Regions from separate parts of the Homo sapiens genome. Here regions 1, 3 and 4 are each linked to region 2. Evidence: fine-mapped expression QTL. A gene starts in region 2. Each other region holds a variant in brackets. All regions are shown on one strand. Distances are from middle to middle.

Region 1 (5,151 bases), 35 kb before region 2:
TTTTTGTCTAATTGATACCTCAAACTTAACGTGCCTAAAATTGAACTCCTGACTCCTTGACACAGACCTCCAGATTTGCTCCTCCTGCAGTCTTCCACATATTCATAAGTAGCAACTCTATTGTTTTAGTTGCTCAGGCCAAAAAATTATTTCCATTTACCCTTCTTTTTCTTATATTTGTACCTTGAAAAAATATCCAGCATCCTACCATTTCTCACCACCTCCACCACTAATACTATACTTTTATTGTCACCTCTTGCCTTGATTACTGGCATAAGTTTCCAAATAGTCTCTCCCACCCCCACCTTTTTTTTTTTTTTAAAGACAGGGTCTTACTCTGTTACCCAGGCAGTAGTGCAGTGGTGAGATCATGGCTCATTGCAGCCTTAACCTCCTAGACTCAAGCGATCTCCTGCCTTAGCCTCCCAAGTAGCTGGGACTACAGGCATGTGCCACCATGCCCAGCTAATTTATTTTTTGTAGAGATGGGGTCTCGCTATGTTGCCCAGGCCGGTCTCAAAATCCTGTGCCTAAGCAATCCTCCCACCTTGGCCTCCCAAAGTGCTGGGATTGCAGGTGTGAGCCACCATATGCAGCTATAATCTATTCTTCATACAGCTGCCAGAGTAATTTTTTTTTTAGGTAAGTCAAATCATGACTTCTCTACTCAAAAGCCTCCAGTGTCTTCCAGCCTTACATAGGGTAAAAGAGAAAGTCCCTGTCATGGTCCTACATGGTCTATCAGCCCTCCTCCCTTATCTCTTTGATTTCATCTCATATCTTTGCTCTTCCACTCAAGCTACACCGGCCTCCTTACCTCAAAGATACCAGTTACACTCCCATCTCATGGTCTTTGCACTTACTATTCCCATAACCTGGAATGTTGTTCCCCAAATATCAGTATGCTTCACTTCCTAACTACGTTCAGGATTCTGCTTAAATGTCACCTCAGAGAGACCTTTCCTTATCACCTTATATAGAGTAGTATCTCCCTCCATGGAATAGAAGTGTCCAGAAATATACCGTCACAATTATGTTCAATTGAATTTTGACAAGGGTGCCAAGAAAATTCAATGGGGAAAATGTAGTCTTTTCAACAAATGGTGCTATGACAACTGGATATCTACAAGCAAAAGAATGAAGCCGAACCTCTGGTTTATACCATATATAAAAATTAACTCAAAATGGATCAAAGACCTAAATGTAAAACCTAAAACCATAAAACTCTTAGAAGAAAACATAGGGGTAAGTCTTCGTGACCTTGAATTAGGTTTCTTAGACATGATACCAAAAGTAACATGTAACAAAAGAAAATATAAAATAGACATCATCAAAATTAAAACCTTTTGTCCTTCAAAGGATACCAAGTGAAGAGATGACCTATAAAATGAAAAAAATTTTTTGCAAGTCATCTATTTGATAAGGGTCTTGTATCTAGAAATATAAAGAGCTTTACAACTTAATAATAAAAAGACAATCAATTTAAAAAATGGGCAAATAATCCAAATAGACATTTCTCCAAAGAAGGTATGCAAATTGCTAAAACACACACACACACACACACACACACACACACACTTGAAAAGATGTTCAACATCATTAGCTGTCAGGGATTGCAAATCAAAAGCACGATGAGATATTACTTCACACCCACTATGATGGCTATAAACAAAACAAAAATAAAAGTATTGAAGAGGATGTGGAGATACTGGAACCCTCATACACTTCTTATGGAAATGTAAAATGGGGAAGTTGCTTTGCATAACAGTCTGGCAATTCCTCACAAGGTTAACATAGAGTTACCATATGATCCAGCAAGTCTAGTCCTGGCTATATATGCCAAAGGGTAAAAACAAAACTATGTCCACACAAAAAACTTTAACATGAATGTTCATAGCAGTATTCATAATAGCCAAAGTACAAACAACCTGAATGTCCATCAGCTGATAGAATGGATAAACAAAATAAGGTATATCCCTACAATAAAATATTACTTGGCAATTAAAAGGAATGAAGTACCTGGTTCAAGCTACAAC[G/A]CAGATAACCTTGAAAAGATTATGCTACATAAAAGAAGCCTGTCACAAAGGACGACATATTGTATGATTCCATTTATATGAAAGGTCCAGAATGGACAAATTCAAAGACAGAAAGTAGATTAGTAGTTGTTATGGGCTGAGAGAAGGGAGAAAATGGAGTGTGATTGCTTTATATATAGAGTGATGAAAATGCTTCAAAATTGACCGTGGTTATGGTTGCTTAACTCTGAATATATTGAATATCATTGAATTGTACATTTCAATTGGGTGATTCTAAGGTATTTTAATTACATTTCAAAGCTGTTAAAATTAAAAGTAGTTCCTCCCACTATTACTCTGTATTCCCTTTCTCAGTTCCAATTTTCCTCATAGCACTCAACCATCATGTAACAGACTGCTTTTTACTTATTTATCTTGTTAATAAATTTCCTCCCACTAAAATACAGATTCCAAGAGAGCAGGGTCTTTATTTTGCATTTGTTTGTTTTGTTTTGTTTTTGTTTTTGAGACAGGGTCTCATTCTGTTACCCAGGCTGCCAGCTGCAGTGTGCAATCGTAGCTCACTGCAACCTTGAACTCCTGGGCTCAAGCAATCCTCCCACCTTGGCCTCCCAAAGTTCTGGGATTACAGATGTGAGCCATAGTGCCTGACCTTTTTTTTTTTTTTTTTAAGACAGAGTTTCATTCTGTCACCCAGGCTGGAGTGCAATGGCGTGATCTTGGCTCACTGCAACCTCCACCTCCTGGGTTCAAGCGATTCTCCTGCCTCGGCTTCCCAAGTAGCTAGGATTACAGCTGGGATTACAGGCATGCGCCACCACGCCCGGCTATTTTGTATTTTTAGTAGAGACAGGGTTTTCACCATGGTGGCCAGGCTGGTCTCAAACTCCTGATCTCAAGTGATCCACCTGCCTCAGCCTCCCAGAGTGCTGGGATTACAGGCATGAGCGCCCAGCCTTATTTTGTTCTTATTCTATCTCCAGAGCCTAGAACAGTGCCTGGCACATAGTGGGTAGTCAATAAATATTTGTTGACTGATCAAATGAATGGAACTTCCAATTCTTTTTCATACCTTCTTATCCATTAAATAGGGAAACAATAAACTATAAAATAATTATTCACTGAGCTCACTTTGCACTGCCGCTTACTCCAGTGGCAGATAGAGAAGCTGTTTTTTGGCTGTTCCAACAAGGTACATTTGAATCCTGTAGGCGTATAGAAAAGGTAACTGCCTAGTAGATTTTATCCTGTTCTGTTAAGTGTTCACTGGACAACTACTTTATGAATAACACACCAAGTTCAGTGCCCTGGGAGTTTATTGTAAAGAAGTATTATATCACCCCATTCCCATTCCTGAAATAGCAAGACATACTGTTGAAAATGTAACTGTTCTATACATTTGTTACTGAAAGCCTGGCATACTGCCAAACGAAACATTTCTTTAGTCCCATATCCTAAAATAACCTCAAGTTAAGATAGTAGCTACAAACTAGCTTATAATAATAATACTTTACATTTGCACAGTGCTTTACAAATTATGACTTTTACAGAAATTATCACACAAATAGCTGTGGGGGTGGTGGCATCCTCATTTCACAGCTAATGAAACTGAGGACCGAGGAGGCTGGGATTTACTCAAAATCATAGAAGTTGCAGAGCCAGAACATCTAATGACTTCCTAGTGTTCTCTTTTTTCTGTGACATCTAGCCTCCATATAAACCTCTCATATTGGTTAGTTTAGAAAATGCATTTATTTCTTGTCTTGGGAATTAAATAGCCGCAGTATTCCCTCCATTTCACAGATGCAAAAACTGTGGCTTAGTAAGATTGTGATTTGTCCATGGCCATGAAGTTAATAAGTAGCAGATACTAATAACTTAGTGCTCTTTGAATTATACACCACTGACATAAGAAAGAACATGTGCTGTCTTTTCAAATAGTGAGTTTTGTAATTGTCTCTTTTCTTTTTTTAATCTTGGCTGCAAAGAAGCTAAAAGCCAGGTATTATCCTTGACCACATCAACTCTATTACATTTTATTACTGGCATGTCTGCTTTCCCCTTTTAGTCGAAATTTCCCTTTTGGGTCTAAGCTCAATGAAATTTTTTCCCCTTTTTTCTCAGCTGCCTCATTCCTTTTTGGAAAGAGATGGGTTGTGATTAAATTGGAAAATATATATAGGGCTTCTCCAGAAAAGAGTGGACTATTTCTTTGTTTATTCTGATTTTATCTTCTTACCTGATGATCTTATCAACAACTCCTTTAAGGTGGGATTTATTTACATTGGTGATGGCTTAATTTCTAAACTGGTTCACACATTAGGGAGGATGCCTATCTAATGAGAGAGTTAGACTACACTTCCAGCCCCTTTCATGCATCATGGAGGGTAGCAATTTAATCAAGAAGTTTTTCTCTATTCCCGTTAATACTCTGGCCAAGATGCCACAATATCATCATAGCTGAGTTCTTCACTATCTATTACTTGATTCCAGATTAGGAATTTAGAAAGCAATGAGATAAGTAGTGTGTTTTGACAGAATAATCCAATGACAGTATGCAAAAGAGATCCAATATAGGGAATGTATTGGAAACTGCTAAACTTGCTATAGCTGGAAACAAGGTTGTGAAGAAAATTGATAGCAGTGCTGAAGAAAATGAAACAGATGTTAGAAATGTTAAAAAATTATAATTATCATTACCTGGTAACCAGTTGGATATAGGGTACATGGGAGAGGGAACTGTAAGTTTCAAATATATATAACAGGAAGAGTAATGGGTTCCATAATGGAAATAGGGAAGCCTACAGAAGCAAACTGGATTCTTTGGGAAGATAAGGAATTTGGTATATAGACATGAATGTAAGGCAGTAACTGGATATAATTAAATGAATGGTCAACAGGTATGGTAAAAGTCATTACGTATAAATGATGCTTCGAGTATTTAAGAGATTCAAGGTCAAAGTAATATTAATACTTTTTAAGAACTTTCCAGGCACTGTTCTAAGTATTGCCCATGTATTATTAACTCTCACAATTCTTAGATCTAGCTAGGTAATCCCAGATAAGAAACTAAGGAACAGAGAGGTTAAGTGACTTCTTCAAAGACACACAATAA
Region 2 (5,151 bases):
GCGACCCCAACTCTACAAAAAAAATTTTTGATTAGCTAGGCATAGTGGCATGCACCTGTGGTCCCAGCTACTCAGGAGGTTGAGGTGCGAGGATTGTTGGAGCCTGGGAGGTTCAGGCTACAGTAAGAGGTGATTGAGCCACTGCACTCTAGCCTGGGTGACATAGCAAGACCTTGTCTTTAAACAAAAAAAGCTTATTATACCTCAGTAGCCTAAGTTTCTGAGGAAAGTTTTTTTAGTCCCTGGGTAGACCGTTTAAAATACAGACTGGATTCCTACTAAGAACCTTCTAATGGTCCTTCACTACAAATGGAATAAAATACTCAAACCACACCTCATACGGGGTCCCTCATCTGACCCATTGAGGCCACAACAGAAACTCTGCAGCATTCCTCCCTTTGCAAGAACAATTCTCTTCCTAGATCTGTTTACAAGGCAAGCTCTTCCTTATTTAGGTTTCCTATCAAGTGTACCTCCTTGGAGACCATCTCTCCTCACCTGACATAAAGTATGCTCATACCCCAGGTCACCCAAAACAATGTCATTGTTAATATATTTGTCTTCATGACACTTAACACTACTGGAAATGACCTTATTCTTTCATTTACTTGTTTGTTCTTTGTCACCCCTTCTAGAATGTAAGGTCTATGTTGAGGGTGAGGACTGCAGTTCAACACTATACTTCCCTAAACAGTGCCTTGAGTATGGAAGGCAGTCAATTTGCTGAATAAATAACGAATGAATCCTGATCTGGAGAAAGGAGGAGGAGTTGTGTTACACAGGAACATTCTACTCAAGGACTGTGACTAAGGATTGAAATAATCTGCTAGCAATAGATGATTAGCATAAGCTTCAAACTAGGGCTGGGCGCGGTGGCTCCCGCCTGTAATCCCAGCACTGGGAGGCCGAGGTGGGCGGATCACTTGAGGCCACGAGTTGAAGACCAGCCTGGGCAATAAGGCGAAACCCCGTCTCTACAAAAATTAGCCCGGGGTGGTGGTGCATGCCTGTAGTCCCAGGTACTCAGGAGGCTGTGGTGGGAGAATCGCTTGAACCCGGGAGGCAGAGGTTGCAGGGAGCCAAGATCGCAACACTGCACTCCAGCCTGGATGACAGAGTGAGAACTTGTCTTAAAAAAAAGACTGAAACTAGGCTTTAGGCAGTTAACTTTTTAATAAAGAATAGTCATTTTATGTTTGGTGTTGAATGTTAGCTATTGTAATATAAAACTCTATTTCTTCCCTAAAAGGGGAAAAGCACCGTAATGTACCTATTGTTAATATACTCTTGTAACATGATTATTGAATATTAAAATATCATCATAGTAGTACTAAAAAATTGTTCCCTAAGAGTTCAACATTCTCTTGAGTCCTGAAGTTATAAACTTAAGAGTAATGGGGAACAAAATTAGTACTTATTATGTACGTAGTGAGTTCACATCACCCTAACAGAAAGTTGAGCTATTATCCACATTTTACAAATAAGGGACTCGAGACTCCTAAGTTAAAATTAAAATCTAGCCGTTCCCTAATGCTAATTTTCATCATGATATGTAAAAGTTATAACCATTGGTTTATTTTAAAAGCCTGAGTACAATAAAAAATCCAAACGTTCTGAGATGTCTTTGAATACATTAATCAGGACTGAGTACTGCATCTGTCTTTGCCCCTCCTGAAACCAATACACACCTTATCTCCATCGCATTACCTTTGGGAATGTTATGGCAGTCCCTCTTTTCATCAATACTACATAGTCTTCCAAGGCTGGCCTCCTCAGCATGTACTGCTTACCGAAGGAACTCCTCAGTATCTGGCCGGGGAACTTCCCCACGATCTTGCCGAACGGGACTGCCCCCCAGTTACTATTTAAGAGTCCGAAGTTGTTCAACCTAAATAATTTCTTAAATTTTGTTTCTCCCTCCCCAGTCTCAGCTAAAATCAGTTCCCCAGCCTGAAAGGGTCTCTCTCTGGAAGTTGAACAAGAAGGGGAGACGTGACGCTCTTCGACCTCGGTAGCGGACTGGGCCTGCGAGAGCATCGAAGGATCCTCGGATCCCTGGTGTGTGGGACCGCACCGGCCCTGGTCTCCGCTCGAGTCCTCGAGCTCTCGAGGGGATGACTCTTCCCGCAGCGTCGGCAGTCTGAGGTTTTCCAGTGACGAAAGACATCCAGTCCCAATGTCCGAGATGCTCAGAGGGAGAGATGGGCAAGACTCTGCTCCTGGGGCTTTCCTTTGTGCCGCCTCGTGCTCTCTTTCTCCATCTCGCAGGTCTCTAGGCGAGGACCTGCAACACAGTGACCGAGCTCCCTCGAAGGGCTCCTGCCCCAGGCCGTGCAGGAATGAATTGGTTCCGAGCCCCTGCCGCAGGCACAGCAAGACAGGACCGCGGCACCATGCCATTAGCATAGTGTTTCGCGAAGGCGCCGTCGCAGACGAGTGACGCAAGCCTAGCGCGACCCCTTCTTTCCCAGTCGCGCGCATGGCGCAGCAGCCCGATGGCTCTGCAGCTGCGTGGGGCTCTACAGCTCCGCGACTGCGCCTGCGTCGGGGAGGGGGCGGTGCGCTAGGTCAAGCTAGGGCGCGGGAGCAGCGGAGTCCTGGTTGAGTGACCATCCAAGGAATATGTCCTCGCGCGCGGCCGCCGTTTTCCTTTTCGGAATGTGGGTAAAGAATTTACCGCTAACAGACGACCTCCAGGTTCGCTCTTGGACAGCAAGATTGAGAGACAAAACTTAACAAAGCGCTGTGCAAACTGAAATCCCAGGCTTAGCTCGCTTGTGTCTTGAACACGGAAGTCACCTAGTCACCCACAAGATGTATGAGTACAGCTAACCCCCAGATGCATTTGACAGACGGCGTGGGACGCGCCACTTGCTGATTGGCTCTCCTTTCCCAGTTGACCGCGACATCCCCCAGCCCCAACTCCCTTTTGATGGGGCTGTGACCACCTGCCGGTCCCCTCACCCACCCCTCACGCCCGGAGAGTCCGAGGTTGATTCGAGTACTCACTATGTGCTTATGTAACACATGTTTTCATTATTAAAATATAACTAGTTTACCCTCCCAAAACGAAATAGAAGTGTCTTAAAATGGAAACAGGTATCTTTGGAGGCCAGAGTTATTTAGCGTTAAATATCACTAGCCTCCCAGCATTTTGGGAAGCCGACCGAGGCAAGCGGCTCATTTGAGGTCAGGAGTTCGGGACCAGCCTGGCAAATGTGGTGAAACCCCGTCTCTACTAAAAATACAAAAATTAGCTGGGCGTGGAGGCACGCACCTGTAATCCCAGCTACTCGGGAGGCTGAGGCAGGAGAAGCGCTTGAACCCGGGAGGCAGACGTTGCAGTGAGCTGAGATCTCGGCACTGCACTCCAGCCTGGGCGACTGAGCAAAACTCCTCTCGGGGGAAAAAAATTAGTCGGGCGCGATGGTGCACGCCTGTAATACCAGCTACAAGGGAGGCTGAGGCATGAGAATAGCTTGAACCCAGGAGGCGGAGGTTGCAGCGGGCCAAGATCGAGCTACCACTGCACTCCAGCCTGCGCGACACAGCAAAACTCTGTCTCAAAAAAAAAAGAAAAATCGCTAGCCTCTTTGCTGGATATTAGTTGACTGGGCAAAAGTTTATTGAGAGTCTGGCAATACGAGGCACGTTAGACACTCATTTAAGTTTCCAACAATTCTGTGTTAGAAACAAATCCATTTTATGAGTAAAAGAACTGGCCCAGGGAGATTAAATAATTTGGGGAAACCAGGAGTGGTGGCTCACACCTGTAACCCCAACACTTTGGGAGACCCAGGCCAGAGGATTGCTTGAGCCCAGGATTTCAAGACCCACGTGCAACATAATAATAATAAGTTGGTCAAGATGCATAGCTGACAAGTGGCATTGCAGAGTTTCCTATTTAGTCAGTCTGGTTCAGCAGCCCATGCTCTTTGTACTGTAACACCGTTTGGAAAGACTGGTCAACAGCACAGTTGAACTTAAAGTCCAAGTATATTCAAAGGGCTGTGAAGTCAATGTGAATTCTGTTTAAATTTGATGAAATAAATCTTGTTATTCTTTTTTTTTTTTTTTATTTGAGACAGAGTCTTGCTCTTGTTGCCCAGGCTGGAGTGCAATGACACGATCTTGGCTCACTGCAACCTCTGCCTCCTGGGTTCAAGCGATTCTCCTGCCTCAGCCTCCCGAGTAGCTGGGGTTACAGGCACCTGCCACCATGCCAGGCTAATTTTTGTATTTTTAGTAGAGACTCGGTTTCACCATGTTGGCCAGGCTGGTCTCGAACTCCTGACCTCATGATCCACCCGCCTCGGCCTCCCAAAGTGCTGGGATTACAGGCATGAGCCACCGCGCCTGGCCGTTATTACTTTCTAAGACATAAATTAATACTTTCTAATCAGTACTTTCTAGGACATCAGCCACCATAAACTCCATCAACAGGATTTCTCCCTTCTTTTTTTCCTTTTTTTTTCTTTGTGAGACAGAGTCTCACTCTCGCCCAGGCTGGAGTGCAGTTGTATGATCTCGGCTCACTGCAATGTCTGCCTCCCAGGTTCAAGCAATTCTCCTGCCTCAGCCTCCCAGATAGCTGGGATTACAGGTGTGCACCACCATACCCAGCTAATTTTTGTATTTTTAGTAGAGACGGGGTTTCGCCATGTTGGCCACGCTGGTTTGAACTCTTGACCTCAGGTGATCCACCCACCTCAGTCTCCCAAAGAGCTGGAATTACAGCCATGAGCCACTGCACCCAGCCAAATTTCTCCCTTCTAATTCTAAAAATGAATAAAGAAACTGCTCTCTCCACACCCCAACTGCGTGTCTCACTTTGTGTAGTTTGCTTTTTAGGAAAAGTTATGACCAATAGTTTCTGGAGTCGTAGGCTTTTCTCACTACTTTTTCTTGTGATAGGCTTTCTAAGACAAAAACTCATTTTTGGTTATAAAATTCTTGAAATTAAGGAGATTATCATTGCCAAACATGGGTCTGAGCCGGAACCTCCTGAACTCTAAGCCCTATGGTGGTTTTAAAAGTTATCATACCTACTTTATTATTTCTTGAGTATTATCAAATGATACTTGGCTGTTATTTCAGAATAAGCAGGAATTGGAAAAAAAGAAAATACACTAACAAAATATGGGAAGTAAA
Region 3 (5,151 bases), 100 kb before region 2:
GTGAAGTGATGAGAGTACCATATGTAGTCCATCACAACTGCTCAGCTCTGCCATTGTAGCATGAATGTGTCCAGTGATAAATAAGTGGCTATGCTTCATTAAACTTTATGGCCACCAAAATTTGAGTTTCATATAATTTTTATATGTCACAGAGGATTCTTTTGTTTTGCTTTTTTGCAATCATTTAAAAAATGTAAAAAATTATTCTTAGGCCCCTAGCCATGCAAACACTGGCATTGGGCTAGATTTGACCCCTTGGCCTTAGTTTGCTGAATACTGGTGTAGTTTTTCTGCCTTTCCTAATGTAAACATGATTGTAGAAAGATAACCTTACTGGAAGTCAGGAAACCTTGGTGCTCCCACCAAAGTTGTGTGACTGATTAAGTCAGGTGAAATAAATTGGGATTAGGAGCCATGGTGTCTAGTCCTTGACAAGTCATTCCTCAATTTTTTTAATGTAATCACCTGAATTTCTAGTGTATGCATAATCACATTTTGTGTGCCTCTCGGCAGCCATTCCATTGTTGAAGAGGCAGCCAACACAGAAAATTGTTGAGGGGTTTTGATCTTTGACAAGGGAAGCGTATAGTGTGAGCTCACCAGTCACCCTGGCTTTTTTCCCTGGAGACATTTCCTAGTTTGTGGCATAGGGGAAATAGATCCCAAATAAAAAGTGACGGTCTCACTGGGCTAAGGAAGAAAGGTGGAAGTTTGGGGCCACTAAAGCAATTGAAGCTTAAGTCCAGGAGAGGAGAGAACCACATAAAATCTAACCTCAAAATCTGCAGTCAGGTCCCTCTAAAGTCATTGACTGACTTCAGAGGTACACATAAGCAAGAGAAGAAACCCAGCAGAAAACAGTAGCTGAAAAGCTAAAGATCTGAGCAGACATTTCAGTATCTAATGCCAGAGAGGCAAAAATGGAAGTTCAAATCCTGCCAAGTTAGAGGGGCCTTATTACACCCTGAGTTTTCCACTGTGGCCCCATCATGACCACTGCCTAAGATTGAAGGCAAAACTAAAACAGACCAGCCCTCAGGAAAATGAGTTACTGCTGTGCTGCTGCTAAAAGGAAACAGCCTTCTTTGGAGAAAGGTATTATCTAAAACTTCTACAATTTTGTATCCATAATTCAGTATTTCATTCACCAAAATAGGATATGCTGTTTTGGACAAGCTAATGAAACTGAATTGACCAAAAACCAATAGAAATTATCTAGTGCTGACAGAAAAAAAAAAGTGTACAGAAGAAAGCATGAGAGACTTATGTATTGCTGATAGACAGTGGAAAGGTCTATCATGTATAATAGGAATCCCAGAAAGAGAGGAGATAGACATACAATGGGATGGAAATATTGACTAATAATTTTCCAAAACAGAGATATCCAAGCACATATTAAAGAAGCTGTGTGATTCCAAGCAGGGTAAATAGAGAGAAAACCATATTGAACATAGCTGCTAGAAATCCAAGAGAAAGAGAAAATGTTAAATGCTGTCAGAAGAAAAAATTCATTATCTTCAGGGAACAATAATATGAATGATGGCTGATCTATCACCTGAAACTGTGGAAGACAGAAGACAATAGAATGGTGTTCTCTTTAAAGCACTGAAAGAAAAAAAATGACAACCTAGAATTCTTTATTTATTTTGAGATGGAGTTTTGCTCGTGTGGCCGAGGCTTGGAGTGCAATGGCGTGATCTTGGCTAACTGCAACCTCTGCCTCCCGGGTTCAAGCGATTCTCCTGCTTCAGCCTCCCGAGTAGCTGGGATTACAGGCATGTGCCACCACGCCTGGCTAATTTTGTATTTTTAGTAGAGGCAGGGTTTCTCCATCTTGGTCAGGCTGGTCTAGAATTCTAAATCTAGAATATCCTTCAATAGTAAAGTAAAATGAAGACAAACTAAAGCTCAGAAAATATATTGCTGATATGCTGACACTAGAGAATATTAAAGCAAGTTCTTTGTGTTGCAAGAAAATAACAGATAAAAGCAAAGAACTGCAGAAAGAAATGAACAATGGTAAGGATAAATGTGAGTAAATACAAATTCTGACTGTTTAAAATAATAGTTGTGGCTTGTGGGATTTAAAATATGTGGAAACAAAAATACGACAACTGTAGAACAAAAGGCTGGAGGCGGGTGGTAATCAGTCAAAAGTGTATTTGTAATCTCTAGAGCAACCTCTAAATGAAAAAAGAATATATAACGAAAAGCTAATAGAGGAGAAAATGGAATAGTAAAAAAATAACTGATTACTCCAAAGAAATGCAGGGAAAGAGAGAGGAATGAAGAACAGATGGGACAAACAGAACAGATGACAGAATGGTAGACTTAAACTCAACTTCGTCGATGATTATATTAAATGTAAAAGGAGCAAATATTGGCTGGGCACCGTGGCTCACACCTGTAATCCCAGCACTTTGGGAGGCCAAGGCGGACAGGTCACTTGAGGTCAGGAGTTCAAGACCAGCCTGGCCAACATGGTGAAACCCTATCTCTACTAAAAATACAAAAATTGGCTGGGCGTGGGTGCCTGTAATCCCAGCTACTCAGGAGGCTGAGGCAGGAGAATCGCTTGAATCTGGGAGGCAAAGGTTTCAGTGAGCTGAGATCATGCCGCTGCACTCCAGCCTGGGTGACAGAGTGAGACTCCATCTCAAAAAGAAAAGGAGCAAACATTGAAATTAATGCAAAGCTCAGAAGACCTAACTATTATAGATACTGTTTACAAGGGATGTATTTTAAATCTAAGGACACAAATGAGGAAGTAAAAAAAAGGGGGGGGGGAGGGGGGTGTGGGGGAGACGATATCATGCACACATTAATCAAATGAAAGCTGACTTGGCTATATTTATGTTGGAAAAAGCTCTAAAACCAGAAATAACACTAGAGGTAAAGAAGGGCATTATATAATGCTAAAAGGATAAATTTAATGGAAAAATATCTAAAATTTTTATATATGTAATAGTATAGGTCTAAAACTAAAAGGAAAGGTTGACAACTATTATAAAAAGTTAAAATAGACAAAACCACAACCATAGATCAGTGCCCCTCTTTCAGTAACTAGTAGAACAAACAGGAAAAAATCAGCGAGGATAAAGATTTGAACAACACAGCCACCCTGACCTACTTGGCGGACATAGAACACTTCACTCAATAATTTCAGGATATATATGCTTTT[CA/C]AAATATGTATGAAACATTTACTAAAATATACCATATGCTATACCATAAAGCACCCCTCAGTACATTTGAAAGAAATGACATCACAGATGTCAGCCAAAATCCATTTAATGAAAAACGTGAAAGACTGCCATACTAGAGTATATAACATTGCTGAGAGAAATAAATAAAAGGAGAGATACCATATTTGTGGATTGGAAGACTTGAAATTGTGAAGATACCAATTCTGTCTAGACTTACCTACTTATTCCCTGCTCCCCCCCCCCCACCCTTTTTTTTTTTTTTTGAGGCAGAGTTTCACTCTTGTTGCCCAGGCTGCAGTGCAGTGGCACGATCGTGGCTCACTGCCACCTCTGTCTCTTGGGTTCAAGCGATTCTCCTGCCTCAGCCTCCTGGGTAGCTGGGATTACAGGCACCTGCCATCACGCCTGGCTAATTTTTGTATTTTTAGTAGAGGCGGAGTTTCACCATGTTGGCCAGGCTGGTCTCTTCCTGACCTCAGGTGATCCACCCACCTCGGCCTCCCAAAGTGCTGGGATTACAGGCATGAGCCACTGTACTCGGCCTTATTCCCAATTTAACACCTCACAAGTTTGGGGGTGGAGGGGCTAGACACAAGCCAATTTTAAAACATTTGAAAGTTCAAAAGGAAAATCTAAAGAACAAAATTGGGATGTTTATATTACTAGATACCGAGACTTTATAAAAAGCCATAGTAATTAAGACATTGTGGTATTGATGCAAAAATAGACAAATGGGGTAATGAGCTATATAGTGGCTAAAAACAGACCTGTTCCTGTATGGTCACCTGATTTTTCTACAAAGCTGCCATTGCGGTTCAGTGGGGAAAAGGATGATCTTTATGATAAATGGTGCTGAATCAACTGGGTATCTGCTTAGATAAAAACCTTGACCTTTACATCAAACCATACACAAAATTAATTTGAGATGGGTTATAGAATGAAGTGGGCTAAAACAATAAAATATCTGGAAGGAAACATAAGGAAATATGTTTAGAGAAGGCAAGAATTTCTTGAATAAGATGCAAAAGGCCTTAACCAAAAAAAGATTGACTAAGATTTTTTAAGATTTAAATTCATTAAAGAACTTCTGTTCATCAAAAGATAGCATGAAGAGATGGAAAAAGTCCAGTTTTAAAGAATGAACAAAAGACTTAAAACGAACTTGTCCAAAAAAAAAAAAAAAGATAACCTAAAGGGTCTATTAGGCACATGAAAAAGATACTCAATGGCCAGGTGCAGTGGCTCACGCCTGTAATCCCAGCACTTTGGGAGGCCAAGGCGGGGAGATTATTTGAGGTTAGGAGTTCGAGATGAGCCTGAGCAACATGGTGAAACCCTGTCTCTACAAAAATTAGCTGGGCATGGTGGTGTGCACCTGTAATCCCAGCTGCTCAGGAGGCAGGAGAATCCTTGAACCCGGGAGGTGGAGGTTGCAGTGAGCCATGATCTTGCCACTACACTCCAGCCTGGGTGACGGAGCGAGACTCCATCTCAAAAAGAAAAAAAAGGGTACTTGACAACCTTGGTCCTCGGGGAAATCAAATTAAATCCAACGAATACCACCATATACCCAACAAAATGACTAAAATTAAAAATACTGATAATTTGCAGTATCAGTAAAGATATGGACCAACAGTGTTAGGAGGATTATGAATTGGTATAGCCACTTTGGGAAACTGATGGTATCTACTACTTAATGAAATAAACTGACCCGAGCAGTTCTACTGCTTTGTTCTATACATACCTAAGATAAATATGCCCATGGATATTCATAGCATTTGTAATAGCCCCAAACTGGAAATAATCCAAATAGAGTAGTAAAGATATTGTCATATGTTCATAGAATGGAATACAGGTTGAATATTTTTTATCCAAAATGCTTGGGACCCCAAGTGTTTGGAATTTGGATTTTTTTCAGATTTTTGAGTATTTGTATTATACTTACCAG
Region 4 (5,151 bases), 500 kb before region 2:
ACGGGACCCACTTCTCCCTCCCAGGCCTTCCTCATGTGCAATGCAGGCCCCCAGCTCAGGCCACGCTCCTCTGCCTAGCGAGGGTCCCAGCCTCTCTGCCTGCATCTGGCTTCACGCACACTTTCCGAGGGCAGGGGCTGCCCGGCTGCTACAAGCCGCAGTGGTAGGGCAGTGACTTGGCTGAGGGGGACATGGGGCTTGTCATTCCTCCCAGGGCTTCTCCAGGAAGTGACAGCCAGAAGGGCCCTGGGAGGCCGCTTGGTTCGATCCCACCCCCCTTTCCCATATCACAGGTGACTGGAAAGTCCAGGCCCCTGAGGTAAGGAGGTCACATAGTGAGTTGTCAGTGGGGGCAAAACCTGAGTTGCTTATTTGTTTTCCCTAAATCGCTCCTCTCCCTGAGTTTGCATCGAGCCCCTCAGAGCAATATTTTTTTCCCAAATGGTCTTCGCAGAGCACAACACAAGAATTGGTTTTACCACACGGCCCGCGTGCACTTCTTAAGGGCAGGCTGCCCATAAGGATCGAAAGCAGGGATGGGGAGGCAGCTCACTCCACGCGTGTCCTCCTTGCCTTTATTTATTTCTTCATTGAGACAGAGTCTCTCTCTGTTGCCCAGGCTGGAGTGCAGTGGCGCGATCTTGGCTCACTGTAATCTCCGCCTCCCAGATTCAAGCGATTCTCCTGCCTCAGCCTCCCGAGTAGCTGGGATTACAGGCGTGGGACACCGCGCGCAGCCCCTGCCTTTATTTTTTATAACCAAGACTGCTGTCTAAGAAGGTGGCTTCCATGAAGATCATTTTGCCCTGCGAGCACCCGGCTGGGTTGGATGTGCAGAGAGGGGTCTAGAGGAGTCGGCAGAGGAGATGGGAGGCCCCATGGGCTGCCTGAACAAAGGGAGAGGAGTCTGGAGAACACAGCAGGGAGAGCAGGGGTGAGGGGGAGAGAGGGGTGGCAGGGCCAGGGCTGTGAGAGGCGGCGGCTGGGACTTTGGCACTGTGCAGTGGGGAGGCCAAAGTCCCCAGTGAAGCGACTGACTGAAGGGCATGTGAAGAACCTGAACGTGCTGTGTTCCAGGAGAAGCTGTTTCCCTATCCACGGTGCAGTGAAGGCCCCCACCTGCTCTCCGCTCCAGAATGGGAAGAGAGGGAGGGATAGACGCTGCACCTGGGTTATCACAGGGTGGCACAGAGAGAAATGCAGAAGCAGGGCCTAGAGGCTGAGGACCCCCGGAACCTAAGCCCCACCGCACTGCCATTCTAGGGGACCAGAAGAAATCCTGGGGAGGGCCCTGGGTTCCTCCGCCCCTGGCATGGGGGTTCACATTCATCATGCTTAGACCTCAGGAAGCTGGGAGTCCCCCGCTGATATCTGGGTTATACCTACATTTTCTGACTTACTCCTCTCCGCATCTCTCTGCCAGAACTGTTATTCCCATTTTCCACCATGGGCACCCGAGGGCAGAGAGGTTAAGTAACTCGCTGAGGCCCCTGATGGTGTAGTTGAGCTGAGACTGAGAGTCCAGTGTGTCCCCTGCAATCCAGCCTCTTCGTTCTACACCATGTACCCTCTGGCCCTGCCTGACCCCTCCCCAACACCTGGCCAGAGCTGGGCTCACCCCACTCACTCAATACTTGTGCACTGCACGTGGAGGGGGCCAGCGCACAGGCATCGGGACTCTGAAGATGTGGGTTCGAATCCTGCTCTGACACTCACCACCTCTATTAGGTTTGGTACATTTAACTCTGCAAGCTTCAGTTTTCTCACCTGTGAAATGAGACCTGGGACAGGTGTGAATGAATGTTCGTATCTTCATCATTACCTGCCCAGCAGCGCACCAGGATGAAGGCCCCCTGGGAGAGCCTCACAGTAAGTGCAAGAAGCTCCAACCTGGCCCTCCTTTCTGTCCCTTCCAGCTCTGTGATGAGGCGTTTTTAGGACAAGCCCCCAAGTTCACCCCAGCTTTTCCTGCCGGCTCCATCCCTTGAGGAGTGAGCAGTCTACTCGGGGGAGCGGGAACCCCGCCAGGGACCCTGGGAAGGGCCAGTGACCACCCAAGGCCCCTAGAAGGGCCTTTGGGACTAAGACCATGGCCAGAAATGGGCCAGATAGAGGCACTTGGTAGTGGCTGGTTTCTTAGTTCCCAGTTTAAATGGGGAACTGCAGAGACCACCCACCTAACCACAGGTGAAGGAACTTAGCCTTTCTCTGCTCCTGAGCCTTGGAGTTCCCAGTGTCTGGATTATATTCCTGGATCTTAAGACATGATGAATTACCGCCTCTGTGGAATGAAAAGCCCTCTCCCTATCTCCTTTCCTTCCTGCTCCTCTGCCTGGGCTGTGGGATTCCAGAACCCAGCTGGGGCT[G/C]CCCCTCTCTCTTCCCTTTTCTGCTCCTGGGATCTGCTCAGCCTCTGAGCAGCAACCAATTCTGTGGCACTGGTGATCCTGGGCTCAGGGTGCCGGCTGGAACATAGCTCAGGGGACCATAGCACAGATGCCCTTTCCAACTCCAGGAGGCATCGTTACCCATTTTACAGATGAGGCCCAAGTTTGCCCGAGTCCGTGCCACTTGTCAGTGTGGCCTCTGAGCTTTGAGCCAGGGCCTGGCTGATATGAAAGGCTGCCAGAAGGAACTGTAAATGAGAACGAGAGTGGGGAAAGTGGGGGAAAGATCATCTTGCCTGCCTGTAGCAGAATGTGTCAATCACATTTCATGGGCAGTGTCTGGAACTGCCTTTTAGCATTACTTGAAAAACATTTAATTACTTTGTACAAATTAATAATAACAGTGCTACTAGATTTGCTCAGTGCCAGGCACTAAGTGCTTTACATCTGTGAACTCATTTAACTGAATTGGTCCCGGGGTTGGGATAGAACAGCTGCCCCTCCTTCAGCAGCGGTTCCAGCCGTCCTAGCTCTGCGGCCTGGCCACTTTGTTTTCCCCAATCCCTGGCCTCCAGGAGCAGGGCTCTCAGCTCCCCTGGCTCTCACGTCCTCACCTGAGCTGAGGAGAGGACAGGGTGGCTCTCTCCAGCTCCACACTGGTCTGTATCAGGCTATTTCACCCTCATTCAAAAAAAAAAAAAACAAAAGACAAAAAACAAACAAACAAAAATAGGCCGGCACGGTGGCTCACGCCTGTAATCCCAGCACTTTGGGAGGCTGAGGTGAGTGGATCACTTGAGGCCAGGAGTTTGAGACCAGCCTGGCCAACATGGCAAAACCCCATCTCTACTAAAAATACAAAAATTAGTTGGGCATGGTGGTGCAGGGCTGTAATCCCAGCTACTTGGGAAACTGAGGCAGGAGAATCGCTTGAACCTGGGAGGCCAAGGTTGCAGTGAGCAGAGATTGTGCCACTACACTCCAGCCTGGGCAACAGAACCGGACTGTGTCTCAAAAAAAAAAAAGAAAAAAAAGAAAAAAGAAAAAGAAAAAGAAAAACAAGCTGCCTCCCACTTTGGGGGCTTTTCCCTTCTCCTTTCCAAGTTGTAATCCCCCAACTGGCCTCCAAGTCATGACCCCACTCGCCATGGCACTGACTCAGCCAGCCTCTGGGCCACCACCTGGGAAGATTTCGACACCCTGGCAGGCAACCCATCCAGTACCCTTGCCTACAGCTTCTTGACCTCTGCAATCCTGTGGACTTTCAGCTTTCTCTCAGCAAGCCACTCCCTGGCCAAAATCTGAGCCTTGTCCCCACCTGGAAGGGCTCCATTCTTAAAATCCCCCTTCAGACTGTACCTTCCTGTGCACCCAACTCTCCCTTAGGCCTGCAGGGACTACCACCTCCTTTCTCCCCACTGCTCCTCCTTCCCTCCCTCCATGGCCCCCAGTCTCTCAGTTCTGTTACACATTCACTTGTATTCTATTTCCACCTCACCTCCAATGCCAGCATCTGAACACAATGATAAAAAAGGGAATGCTAGGTTCTTTTCACTTGGGACTGTTAAGCGCACAATTTCTAAGTGAAATATTAGCACAATGAATCAAACATTATATTATAAAAATACATCCTGCTCAAATAGAGTTTATTCAGGGAAAGCAAGCATGATTAATACTGTTGAACTTTGTACTATAATTCCCATTAATAGGTCAAAAGAGGAAAAACAATTTGACTATCTAGATAGATGCCAAGAAACATATAACATCCAACATAGCTGCTTTAAAAAAAATCTCTTAGTAAAACTGAAATAGAAGTATGCTTCTTTGATGTGATTAAAAAATACCTGTGTCAGACCAATAGGCAGCACCATGCGTGATGCTGAAACACGAGGGATATTGATGTTCAACTCAGGCACAAGAAGAGGATGCCAGGATTTGCCACTATTGTTTAACATCATTCTGGAACTGACAACCGATGCTGTTGATTAGAGGCAATTACTACGAGGCAATGATACCCCAGTAGCAGTAAGCTAGAAAGCCCCAGATCTCAATTTTTAAATGCCATTCTCCTTAAACAAATTTATAAGAAAAAATCAAACAACCCCATCAAAAAGTGGGCGAAGGATATGAACAGACACTTCTCAAAAGAAGACATTTATGCAGCCAAAAAACACATGAAAAAATGCTCACCATCACTGGCCATCAGAGAAATGCAAATCAAAACCACAATGAGATACCATCTCACACCAGTTAGAATGGTGATCATTAAAAAGTCAGGAAACAACAGGTGCTGGAGAGGATGTGGAGAAATAGGAACACTTTTACACTGTTGGTGGGACTGTAAACTAGTTCAACTATTGTGGAAGACAGTGTGGCGATTCCTCAGGGATCTAGAACTAGCAATTCCATTTGACCCAGCCATCCCATTACTGGGCATATACCCAAAGGATTATAAATCATGCTGCTATAAAGACCCATGCACTCGTATGTTTACAGCGGCACTATTCACAATAGCAAAGACTTGGAACTAACCCAAATGTCCATCAGTGATAGACTGGGTTAAGAAAATGTGGCACATATACACCATGGAATACTATGCAGCCATAAAAAAGGATGAGTTCATGTCCTTTGTAGGGACATGGATGAAGCTAGAAATCATCATTCTGAGCAAACTGTCACAAGGACAGAAAACCAAACACCGCATGTTCTCACTCATAGGTGGGAATTAAACAATGAGAACACTTGGACACAGGGTGGGGACCATCAC

Alleles and levels. Alleles are on the strand shown, and positions count from the first base shown. SD is a standard deviation of normalised expression in the study named. Not every link is listed here.
For the expression in subcutaneous fat of the gene that starts at base 2,438 in region 2, G is the low allele of the variant in region 1 and A is the other (moderate effect, 0.58 SD a copy in GTEx).
For the expression in prefrontal cortex of the gene that starts at base 2,438 in region 2, allele CA in region 3 goes with a higher level than allele C (small effect, 0.35 SD a copy in GTEx).

Evidence for each region. PIP is the estimated chance that this variant, and not a neighbour inherited with it, causes the effect. A credible set is the group of variants that fine-mapping cannot tell apart.
Region 1: its variant is the best candidate, but not a certain one, in a credible set for the expression of TRMT61B in subcutaneous fat (GTEx, PIP 0.69).
Region 3: its variant is the best candidate, but not a certain one, in a credible set for the expression of TRMT61B in prefrontal cortex (GTEx, PIP 0.88).
Region 4: its variant is the best candidate, but not a certain one, in a credible set for the expression of TRMT61B in pancreas (GTEx, PIP 0.61).

Annotation. Positions count from the first base shown.
Region 1 is chr2:28,832,538-28,837,688 of GRCh38, forward strand. The region is part of intron 6 of SPDYA (speedy/RINGO cell cycle regulator family member A); the gene reads left to right. Among named protein-coding and RNA genes, the nearest start is that of SPDYA, 24 kb to the left of the region's middle. The variant G/A (reference allele first, on the strand shown) is at 2,037.
Region 2 is chr2:28,867,872-28,873,022 of GRCh38, forward strand. It overlaps TRMT61B (tRNA methyltransferase 61B), which reads right to left and starts at 2,438. Exons shown (of 7, transcript NM_017910.4): 1 at 1,708-2,438. The coding sequence starts at 2,406. RefSeq lists enhancers at 432-947, 948-1,462, 2,092-2,616, 2,231-2,400, 2,631-2,780.
Region 3 is chr2:28,767,605-28,772,755 of GRCh38, forward strand. All of the region lies in intron 1 of PPP1CB (protein phosphatase 1 catalytic subunit beta), which reads left to right. Among named protein-coding and RNA genes, the nearest start is that of PPP1CB, 18 kb to the left of the region's middle. The variant CA/C (reference allele first, on the strand shown) is at 3,182.
Region 4 is chr2:28,366,972-28,372,122 of GRCh38, forward strand. No RefSeq gene overlaps it. Among named protein-coding and RNA genes, the nearest start is that of FOSL2, 23 kb to the right of the region's middle. The variant G/C (reference allele first, on the strand shown) is at 2,367.